Linked DNA regions of Homo sapiens: region 1 is linked to region 2. Evidence: fine-mapped expression QTL. A gene starts in region 2. The other region holds a variant in brackets. All regions are shown on one strand. Distances are from middle to middle. Region 1 overlaps ZNF667 (zinc finger protein 667). Region 2 holds the start of ZNF470 (zinc finger protein 470).

Region 1 (5,380 bases), 110 kb before region 2:
AATTCTACCCCTAGGTATATGCCCCAGAGAAATGAAAACATACATCCACACAAAAAATTTGTATATGTTCATAGCAGCATATCAAAATAACAAGAGTGAAAACAACCCAAATGCCCATCTATTAACTGATGAATGGATAAACAAAATGTGGTCTATCCATACCATACATATTCTTTGGCAATGAAAAGAAATGAGGTATTGGCACATGCTACAACATGATGAACCTCAAAAACATTAGAAATCAAAGAAGCCACATATTTATGATTTCATATGTATGAAAGGCCCAGAGCAGGCACAACCAGAGAGATAGAAAGTGGACTAGTAGTTGCTGAACCTGGGGGGATGAGTGGCCAGGGGAGACGAAGAGTGACTGCTTATGGGTACTGGGTTTTTGGGTGGAAATAATGAAAATATAATTGATTGTGGTGATGGATGCATAACTCTGAATACACTATTATAAAAACCATTTAATTGTGTACTTTTTATGGGTGAATTGTATAGTATGTGAATTATATCTCAATAAAGCTCTTTTAAAAAAGAAACTGCAGTGGCTTCCATTTTCCTGACTAGACCCAGAGTGATGCATGTCCCTCAATAGGCTGGTTCTGGATTGTGGGGGACGAAGAGCCTTACCAAGCGAGACCAGGTTCCGGTAATTCTCCAACATGACATCTTCATACAAATCCTTCTGAATGGGGCTCAGCCATTCCCACTCCTCCTGGGAGAAGTAGATGGCTAAGTCCCCAAATGTTATAGGTGCCTGAAATGAAAAATCAAATGTCTATTCACCATGGACTTGTGCTTCCACATGGCTGGAGGAAATGGTGCACACATCTTAAACATGGGAGACACAAGGTACCAAGAATCATTCAGGAAGCATTCAGGGTTCTGAGGCCAAAAGGGGCAGGTGTATTAAATAAGTTAAATAAAATACAATATAAGACATAGCTGTTATTAAAATTATGTTGCATTAAGAACACGTGGCAACCTGGATCTACCAGGCATTTACAAAGTCAAAGCATTCTTCTAAGCACCTGACTGTACTGGCTCACTTAGTGCTCATGTGAATCAGTGATAGAGGCACTGTCAGCGGAATCACAGTATGTTACAGATGAGGAAACTGAGGCCCAGAGAGATGAGAAAACTTACTGCAGGTCTCACAGCTAGTAAATGGAGAAGCTAGTGTTCAGCCCAGACAGCTCCTGATTTAATCTCCTAACCACTTGCTCTCCAAGAAACATGTGAATATGTTACACATGACAAAAGGTTCTTTGAGGGTATAATCAAGGTTACTGATCACTTGACCTTGGCAGATTATCTTGGACTTGACCTGGCCAGTTGGTTATTGGTTCTTGCTGTCTTGAAGATGAAAAATGAGGGTCAGGTGGAAAGTGTAGGAAGGAACTGAATCTGGCCAATAACCAGCAAGTCTGGAAGAGGACCTGAGCCCCAAATGAGAACACAGCCGGCTGACACCTTGATTTCAGCCCTGTGAACTCCAAAGCAGATGACCCAGCTAAACCATGTTGTGCCTGGACGCCAACCACAAAACTGCATGATAATAAACACGTGCTGTTTTGAGCTGCCAAGTTTGCAGCTAATCTGTTACAGCAGCAAGGGGCAACTAATACACCCAACTGAAAGCAAACACATTTGTTATGGGAAACTGCATTTGAGATGCCTGTTGGAAAAACCACTCAATGATTGACAGTCGTGGAGCATGCTGACCACAGGAGGCTACGCATACAACCTCACTGCCTGCACCAGTGCAGTCAATGGAATAGCAGGGCTATGTGGTGCCTTTTAGTCTTGGGACCTTAGTTAAAGAGATTTCCTCCATGTAAATATGGGTTTTACAAGGAGATACAAAACCACACAACAAGACTAACTCCAGAGCACATGTCAAGTCCCCTCTGCTACTGCAGGCCCCACCTGGGCATTCATCTCCATGCTGAGAAATCACAGTGGCTCTCATCTTCCTCCACGGAGGACATTTCTCTTGGGGAGGGCATTTCTCCTGGCACTGGCAAAGCCCCTGGGAATGCTAAACAAACAGGCCAGTGGCCATGTGCACACTGGGAATGGAGAGAGGCTCGCTGAGCAGTTTCCTGGCTGCTGGGCCCTTCTCAGGTTCTCATCCCTCATGGCAACGGGAGAAAACCAAAGACTAGGTGTTGGATGGATCTCCAACAGGCAACAAGTCTCCATGGAAGGAAAGCAAATGGTCCACATCTCACAAGACACGATGGGGTGTTCCGGAAGGAAGAGGAATTGCCACTTACCTTGGATTTGGATTTCCCCCGTGCAGAAGGCATCCTTTCCTCCCCCTTTAGGGTCCACACTGAGAGATGGG[C/CAG]AGAGAGCTGGTAAGGCAGGGCTGTGGGGAGAAGACAGGTCATGAGGCAGTGCCAGAGTCCACAGGCCCCTACCTAACCTGGAGACACACACACACACAGACACACATGCACACATATGCACGTGCACACACACACACAGATGTCAGAACACCTGGCGCATTCCTGTCCCCCCTCACCTGCTCACGGTCAGGGAAGGGCACGGCCAACCCTTTTTGTGCCTAAGATCATAGCAGGTTCTTGGTCATGAGGCAAATAAGGACTGCACAGACCTCTGGCCATCCATCTGACAAGTATTTACTGAGCACCTACTGGGTGTCCAGCTGTCCCAGGTACTGGGGGGAGAGCAGTGAGTTAAAGTGGAAGAGTGCCGGCTCCCAAGCACCTTACATTCCAGTAGGGAAAGAAAGTCCATATAAAGCACAATGATGGACATGGTCATTGCTATGAAGAATAAACAGGCCAGGGCAGGGGTTAGAGTCGTGGAATGGTCAGGGAAGGTGTCTCTGAGGAGGTCACATTGAGCTGAGGTCTAAATATGAGAGCATGAGCCATGTGGGTGCTAGGGGAAGAGCATTCCAGGTAGAGGCACAGCAGGTGTCAGCGTCATGGGTGGGCGCAGGCTAGGTGTGAGGAGAGCAAGGTCTGTGTACTGAGGCAGAGTGAGTGCAGCGGGGAGGGTGGGCTAAGGCAGGCAGGGCCGGATCATGAAAGGGGTGCTGAGCAGCTGGGATTTGATCTCAAGTGTGACATCACTGGGGGAGGAGGGGGAGCTGAGAAGGGGAGTGACACCATCAGACAACATTTAACAAAAATTTGTGGCATGTCTATATGGTGGGTTAACTGTGTGTCAGAAGAGGGAGCAGGAGTGAGGACAGGACTCACTAGGTAGCTTTGCAGAAATCCGGGGAAGATGTTGGTGGCATGACTAGGGTGGGTGGAGTGGAGGAAGGAAGATGTGGTCAGATCGCCTCCTCAAGAGGGCCCCTCTATCCACCCATCTCAAAGAATCTCTGCCCTGTATCAGTCTATACCTATGCTGTCCAATGTGAATGCCACTAGCCACATATGAAAACTGAGCACGGGAAATAAAACTAGTGGAACTGAGGAACTCATTTTCTTCCCTTTTTTTTTCTTTTGAGACAGGGTCTTGCTCTGTTGCCCAGGCGGGAATGCAGTGGTGTGATCTTGGCTCACTGCAACCTCAACCTCCCCGGCTCAAGCGATCCTCCCACCTCAGCCTTCCAAGTAGCTGGGACCACAGGCACCTGCCACCACACTCAGCTAATTTTTGTATTTTTCAGAGACAGAGTTTTGCCATGTTGCCCAGGCTGGTCTCAAACTCCTGGGCTCAAGCAATCAGCCCGCCTAGGCCTTCCAAAGTGCTGGGATTACAAACATGAGCAACTGTGCCCAGCCCGGAACTCATTTTCACTCCAATCTATTCACTATTAAAACAATAATAAAATAAAATTTAAAATTATTGCTAAAATTATTAAAATTTACTGTAAATTTAAAATGAAAAACTGATACTCAATTTGGTTACCGTAAAACTTTAAAGTATGTCTGGAACAACTTGGGTATGTGACTCTGCTTTTCCAAAGGTTTTAGGAAATTAAGTACAGATCAGGTATCTCCACTGAAAATTAAGGGTCTAGATGGACCGTGTGTATAAAATTTGTATCAGATTTCAAAGACTCAGTATGAAAAAATGTAAACTATCAGTATGAAAAAATAACTATTTCATTGATAACTGTTTATATTGGCTACATGTTGAAATGTTAATATTTTGATATAGTCAGTTAAATGTTATTAAAATTAACTTTAATGGGCCAGCCCAATGCTTTGAGGCTGATGCAGGAGGATCACCTGAGCCTAAGAGTTTGAGAGCAACCTGAGCAATGTAGTGAGACCCTGTCTCTATAAAACATTAAAAAATTAGCTGAGTGTGGTGGTGTGTGCCTGTAGTCCTAGCTACTTGGGAGGCTGAGATGGGAGGATTGCTTGAGCCTGGGAGGCAGAGGTTGAGGTGGGCCAAGATCATGCCACTGCAGTCCAGCCTGGGTAGCAGAGTGAGACCCTGTCTCAAAAACAAAGCAAAACAAAACAAAATTAACTTTAATGATAAATGTGTTGCTTTTTACCCTTTTCAATGTAGCCTCTGGAAAATGTAAAATTATCAGCCTCACATTATGTTTCTGTGGGGCAGTGCTGCCACATGCTCTCTTATTGTATTGCCCCATTTTCCACATAGCACTTACCGCTTTCTGAAAACAGCTTCTTTATGTGGGTGTTTATGTGGGTAGTACCTCCCCCCTCCCTAAACACACACAATGATCTAGGCTGGAAAGCAGAGACTTTGTTTTGTTCACCGCTCTACTCCCAGGGCTGAGAACCTACCTAGCATAGAGCAGGTGCTCAATAAACACTTGTTGACTAACTCAACCAGATCCTCAGTGTGCTGAAACCCCATCCCAGAGACACAGTTCTGCTGCAGCCATTCCCTGGCCCTCCACATTTGTCTTTGGAGAGGACAGAAATGGGGACATACTTTTCACTTCCCTTACTGTGGAAAGCTTGACATCTTGAGAAAATGATACAATGAATGCCTAATTACTCTTCACCAAATGTTAACATTTTTCCTACCCTTTTTTATAAAAAGGCAGTTGTCTGAAAGTTGTAGAATGACAGTTCATCCCTAAATGTTCCAGCACACGCCTCCAAAGAATGCCATCGTCATACCCTGCTGCCAACAACAGCAGAAATATCCCCAAAAGCTTTTTGTGACTTTGTAATGAAAAAAGTACAGCAGGACACAGCCTGGAAAATGGAAATAATGGATGTTCCCTCTACAGATGTTTGTTTCGTCCCCGTAGGGGTGGAGGTAGAAGAAGATAAATCCAAGGCCATCAGGCTTGAGTTCAGAGTTAGGTAATGGATATGTTTTGATACAAAACATGGATCCTAAGATGGCCTTATCCTATTTAAGAGAAGCTAGGCAGAAGAATGCTTGGATTATTACATGTCTC
Region 2 (5,380 bases):
TCAGAGTGTCTTAGTCTGAGGGGCTCACTAAAGGTAATCTTCATGTCTGTTACAATGGTTTTCAATTGCTAGGATTTCCTTTTGATTCCTTCTTACAGTTTGCATCTCTCTGCTTACATTACCCATCTGTTCTTGCATGTTGTCTACTTTTTCCAAGATGCTTCTCCTTCTGTGGGCTTCCCTAAGAACTCCTTCTTAAATAGAGTCTGTGCCTTGCAGTTTTCTCTGTTGTAATCTACTGTTATTGACCAGAGCCCCATTAGTGTGGCAGTGAGGTACAGTGGGGAGGGAAGCATTCTATAATCTTATTATTAAATACTATTTTTCTAGTGGGCTTGAGGCCTTGGACTGTGATCTTCAGAAGCACTTCTTAGCCTTTCAAAAATCCTGCCTTACTGAGACAGACAGGCTATAGAGGGACTGGAGCTGGCCAATTGCCTCTCCCCAAGGTCCAACAAGACTCTAGTAAGTAGTTTTTCTTGGAGTGCAGGTGTTTATTATGGAAAATGTGGTGCTTACTTTTCTCCTCCCCTTGCCCAAAAACCTGAGATTTTTCCCCATTCTTCACTGAGAGAATTTGATAGGGTTTCTGGAGGTAAAATTCACGAAAGTGTGGGGGCCCATCTAAGATTGGGCCCCTAGGAGTTTTTAACTCACAAGTTAGCCCACACTAAGCCTCCAGCAATTCATCAAAATTATAAAAAATAAAAGTTTTTACCAGTTTATAACTCCAGTGGCTTCTGCTTCAAGTAAGCTAATCTTGGCTGTAATTTTATGTATTTTTCTTTCTCGGGATTTTGGGGTGTCAGTTACCTTTCTATCTTCAGTTCTCTGATGGATCTAAGAAAAGTTGATTTTCAGTTTGTTGAATGATTTTGTTGTTGTGAAGATGGGAATGAAGGCTTCCGAGCTCTTTATATGCCAGAGCTAAAATGAGAATATTATCATTTTCATCCAACTCAAATAACCACAAACGTTACAAGCTCTAAGATGATATTTGCTGTTTCATAGTTAAAGTATCTTCACAGCTAGACTTGGCTTTATTATGTTGTTTATGATGTCTGACATAAATTGGATCCAGGAGAGTCCAGTCTAGATGTCACTGTGTGGCCTTGGGTGATTGAGTGTGACTGGGAGGGTGAGTTAGTTTCTGGTGAGCCAGTATCTATGATGCTGTATCTTGGTCAGCTGGGGCTGCTATAACAAAATATCATAGACTAAGTGACTTGACTAAGAGACTTTATTTTTCACAATTCTGGAGGCTGGGAAGTTAAAGTGCTGGCACATTCAGTTCTTGGTGAGGGCCCCGTTGGCTTGCAAATGGGTTACATCCTGCTGTGTCCTCACATGGCCTTTGCTTGGTGGTTGTGTAAACATGGAGACCCCTCCTTCCTCTTTTTTAATAAGTGCACTGACCCCATCATAAGGGTATCACCCTTATGACCTAATCTAAAACCAGTTACCTCCCCAAAGTCCCACCTCCTAACGTCATCACACTAGGGGTTAGGGTTTCACCATAGTAATTTTGGGAGGACATATTCAGCCTATAACATGTTGTGTCATGGTGAGACTGGCAATGCTAGATTTCGTGATTTCCTAAAAAATAAAATAAAAATAAAAAACTAAGCACCTACTATGTGCTGTTTTAGTCACTGAGAATATAACCCTGAACAGGACGGAAGCTGTGTGCCTTCTTGGAACCCTCCTTCCAGCAGGGAGAGATAAAATGGGGTGGGGGGAGGTGAGGGGCGTACCGTATATCAGAGAGCAGTAACTAGTAGGCATGAAATAAAACAGGTTCCACACGCGCACCATCAGAAAGTCACAAGTGTGCAAAGCAGACAAATCCCAATCTCCTCACTTTTCTATCGCGTAGGCCCCGCCCGCGCCCCAAGCCCCGCCCTGTCATGGTTTTCCTCTCCAGAGGGTAGCCGCTACGCCTTACCGACTGCGTTTCAGTGCTGTCCCACTGCTCCTGCACACCCCACGCCTGCGACCCTACCCACCACGGACAGGCGCTCCTGCGAGCTGGAAGCCAGTTCTCTGCGTCCTGAGCCTGGCAGCTGCATCTGAACACTCGGAGCCTGGCGATGGCTTCCAGAAACCCCTGCGCCGTGGGTCGCTTCAGTGAAGGGGCCTGTACTTCGGCGACCCAGACTCCGGGCTGAGAGGCCTCCTAATCCAACCAGGAGGACCAGGAGAGGCCCAAAAGGGGACACAGGGCAGTGACCGCCAGGCTTGGAGAGGAGCCGCTCCTGGCAAAGCCAGCGCCCTATTTCTGAACGCCGCCTCCGTTCCGGACTACACTTCCCAGGGGCTATTGCAGCGGAGGACACGCCCACTTCCGGAAAGGACCCAAAGCCGGGCGAGTGCACGTCCCGCCGGTTGCTGAGGAGAAGGGAGGTCTGGGCGGGGCAGCGGCCGAGGCTGGACTGGGGCGCGGCGGGGGCGGTGTCCTGGTTCCTGTGTGGGCGGCGGGCGTGAGCGTGCGCGTGTGGCCTGGTGGCTGTGAGTGCCCATACGTGGTGAGCGTGCGGTGCTGTGCTGAGGAGGGGCGAGCGCGCGCGGGGATGGCGGCCCGGTGTGTGACTGTCCGGTGCGTGGCCGCGAATCTGCGCCTGCGTGCATGGCCCGGCGGCGTGCGGAAGGCGGTGTGTGTTGGAATGAGTGAAGCACTTTAAGTGGCCAAGAGCAGGAAACCCGGCCGGAGGAGGCTTACCCCGTTCTCCCCTGTATCGACTGCGTAGAGCCCAGTGTGGGCAAAGTCCTAGAGCCCGGGGAAGTTGCCCGGGCGGGGCAGCCTCGGCTGAAGCATTTCCTGTCAGCCCTATCTGGAAGGGGCAGAGCCCAGGACAGGGCTCCATGTCCACAGGACGGCGAGGAGCGAAGACCATGGGGACTGAGTACACAGGTAAGAGTGACAGATGACGGATGTGGCTGCCGGAGTGGACATTGAGGTTTTGGGTGCTGTCTTTCGGGGTTCAGGTGCTGGAGGAGGATGTCCCCCGTTTCTAAGGCTAGTGGACCTGGAAGTCGAAAGATTTGGAGGGTCACCTTGGGTCAGAGTGGAGCTGGGTTTAGTTAGGGAGGGACCTTGACTTGGCCAGAGACACCTAACCAGATAACCTGACTCAGGTCCTTGGTATATCACTAAGGGCCCATGGGAGAGAACACTACCCGTAATATTACCCATTATAGCATTACTTCTGGGTACTCTGCTGCTGTTGAAGGAATAGCTCAGCATTTAGATTTTTACCCGTCAGAGCCTTGTCCCATCTATCACTGTAGGATTTGGGAAGAAGGCGAGATTCACAGCTTCACCCAGAAATGCCGAGGCATTCCAGCCTTTCTATGGCTTAATCACGTTCTAGTCAATAACGGAAGATATCCCCATTCCTTGGGCTTCTCTCCCTCCCCTCTGGCCTCCCACTCCAATAAAGAGAAAGGGGGAGGAAGGGCTATTTTTAGCCATATTGTTCTGTGCTTGTTTAGTTTCCTGCATGCTATAGTAATAGCTAATGTTTAATGAGTGTTTATTATGTGCCAGACACAGTTCTAAGACCTTTTGGGAGTATCAGCACCAAACTTCACAACATTATGAAGTAGGAACTACTTACCTCTTTTTTACAGATGAAGACACAGAAGCATAGAGAGGATAAGTAATCACTAGCAAGTGGAAGAACCGGGATTCAGATCCAGAACAGGCTGACTCCAGAGTCACTGGCTGTCATGTAGTTTCCTCAACTACTGCCTCAGGTAGGTTTCTTAGCCACTTTTGACAATTAAAGAAACTGACTCTGAAAGGGTTAAATAACTAAATAGTTCATATGCCAGAACCTCCACTGAGCAGGTTTGGGGTTTTTTTCTTAAAAAGTTTATGACTCTAAGTTCTTAGGTAAAATGGAGATGGTAATATTATATACCTCACAGTACTGTCATAAGGATTAAATGACCTCATACATGTAAAGCACTTGGTATAGTCCCTGCCATGTAATGTGTTCATTTTTATCATCATTATGATAATCCTTTGAGAAGGCAGTGGAATTTAGATGAAAGAAACTAGAATTAATTCAGATACTTTATCCTCTTCCTTCCTAATTAAGGAAACATGGCTCAGTGGAGTCAAGGGACTGCTTCAACACTGTAGTTTGTCACAAAACAAAATGAGATCCTAGGCCTCATGAGGATTTTTTCATTTGGTTGTCTGCAAGTCACATGGACTCTGTTGTAACGAAAGGAATGCCTCTCTCTGGAAAAGATGGAATTCTCCATGGAATTTGTCTTATAGAATGTTCACAAATCCTGGCCAACTGCACAGAGGACTTATTTTCTGTTATTTTCTGGTATATGAGCAAATAACTTCTGTGATAGAGTCAGCCAGACCTAGGTTGGTGACTAGGTTATTTACAAATTTGTGTGACTTGTGGAAAAGACTTGACTTCCCAGAGCTTTCTTGTGTAAAATGGTGACAATATACCCGATTCTGTTTGAAGATTTTGGAGATTTAAAGACAGTATTAATATATGCAGCACAGACATGGTGGCTCATGCTTGTAATCCCAGCACTGTGGGAAGCCAAGGCAGGAGGATTGCTTGAGGCCAGGAGGTTGACCAGATACCTAACTCCAGGAGGTTGACACCTCCTGGCCTCAAGCAATATAGTGAGCAATTGGGCAATATAGTGAGACCCCCATCTCTATCAAAAGTAAAAAAACTAGCTGGGCATGGTGGCACATGCCTGTAATCTTAGCTACTTAGGAGGCCTAAGCAGGAGGATCCCTTGAGCCCAGAGTTTGAAGATACAGTGAGCTATGATCACGTCACTGTACTCCAACCTGGGCAACAGAGTGAGTCCCTGTCTTAGAAAAAAAAAATGTACACACACACAGGCTAGTATTAATAAATCTGTTGTTAATGAATTGGTGGCTGATGGGGAGAGGGGGTCAAGAGATATTATGCTCATCCTGAAAACCCAGAGCAGAGGGGAACCCCAGCTATATATTTCAAGTCTCCCAAAGAGCATCAGGACTGTGGGGTGGGGGAGTTGGAGTGAGGACTGTGAGTGAGGACAGAAGAAGCTGAAGGGAAGAAAGCATTTTCAGACTTTGATTATTAGTGCTACTTGGTTTCTCACTACTTCTTTTTCTCCCCAGCTCTACAATCCCAGAGTAAAGCTCTTCTCCAAATGAAGAGCCAGGAAGAGGTAGAGGTGGCAGGAATTAAACTTTGTAAAGCCATGTCCCTGGTGAGTTAGTATTCCCCCTCTCCCCACTAAAATAGTTTTGCTTTTCTGGATTTGGTAATACTTGTTTTCTTCTGAAAATATTGTGCTTAAGAGTTCCACCCTGAGGCCTGTTTCCTGTTTCTTCCCTTTCTGATAT

Evidence for each region.
Region 1: its variant is fine-mapped to the expression of ZNF470 in cerebellum (GTEx, PIP above 0.99).

Annotation. Positions count from the first base shown.
Region 1 is chr19:56,460,056-56,465,435 of GRCh38, forward strand. ZNF667 (zinc finger protein 667) reads right to left here. Exons shown (of 7, transcript NM_001321356.2): 4 at 2,283-2,374; 5 at 634-760. The coding sequence starts at 2,315. Among named protein-coding and RNA genes, the nearest start is that of ZNF667, 15 kb to the right of the region's middle. The variant C/CAG (reference allele first, on the strand shown) is at 2,354.
Region 2 is chr19:56,565,128-56,570,507 of GRCh38, forward strand. ZNF470 (zinc finger protein 470) reads left to right here and starts at 2,341. Exons shown (of 6, transcript NM_001001668.4): 1 at 2,341-2,911; 2 at 3,631-3,756; 3 at 5,153-5,244. The coding sequence starts at 5,185. It overlaps ZNF470-DT (ZNF470 divergent transcript), which reads right to left and starts at 2,894. Exons shown (of 2, transcript XM_047439806.1): 1 at 1,946-2,894. The coding sequence starts at 2,894. The coding sequence ends at 1,956. RefSeq lists enhancers at 2,021-2,070, 2,081-2,290, 2,671-2,780.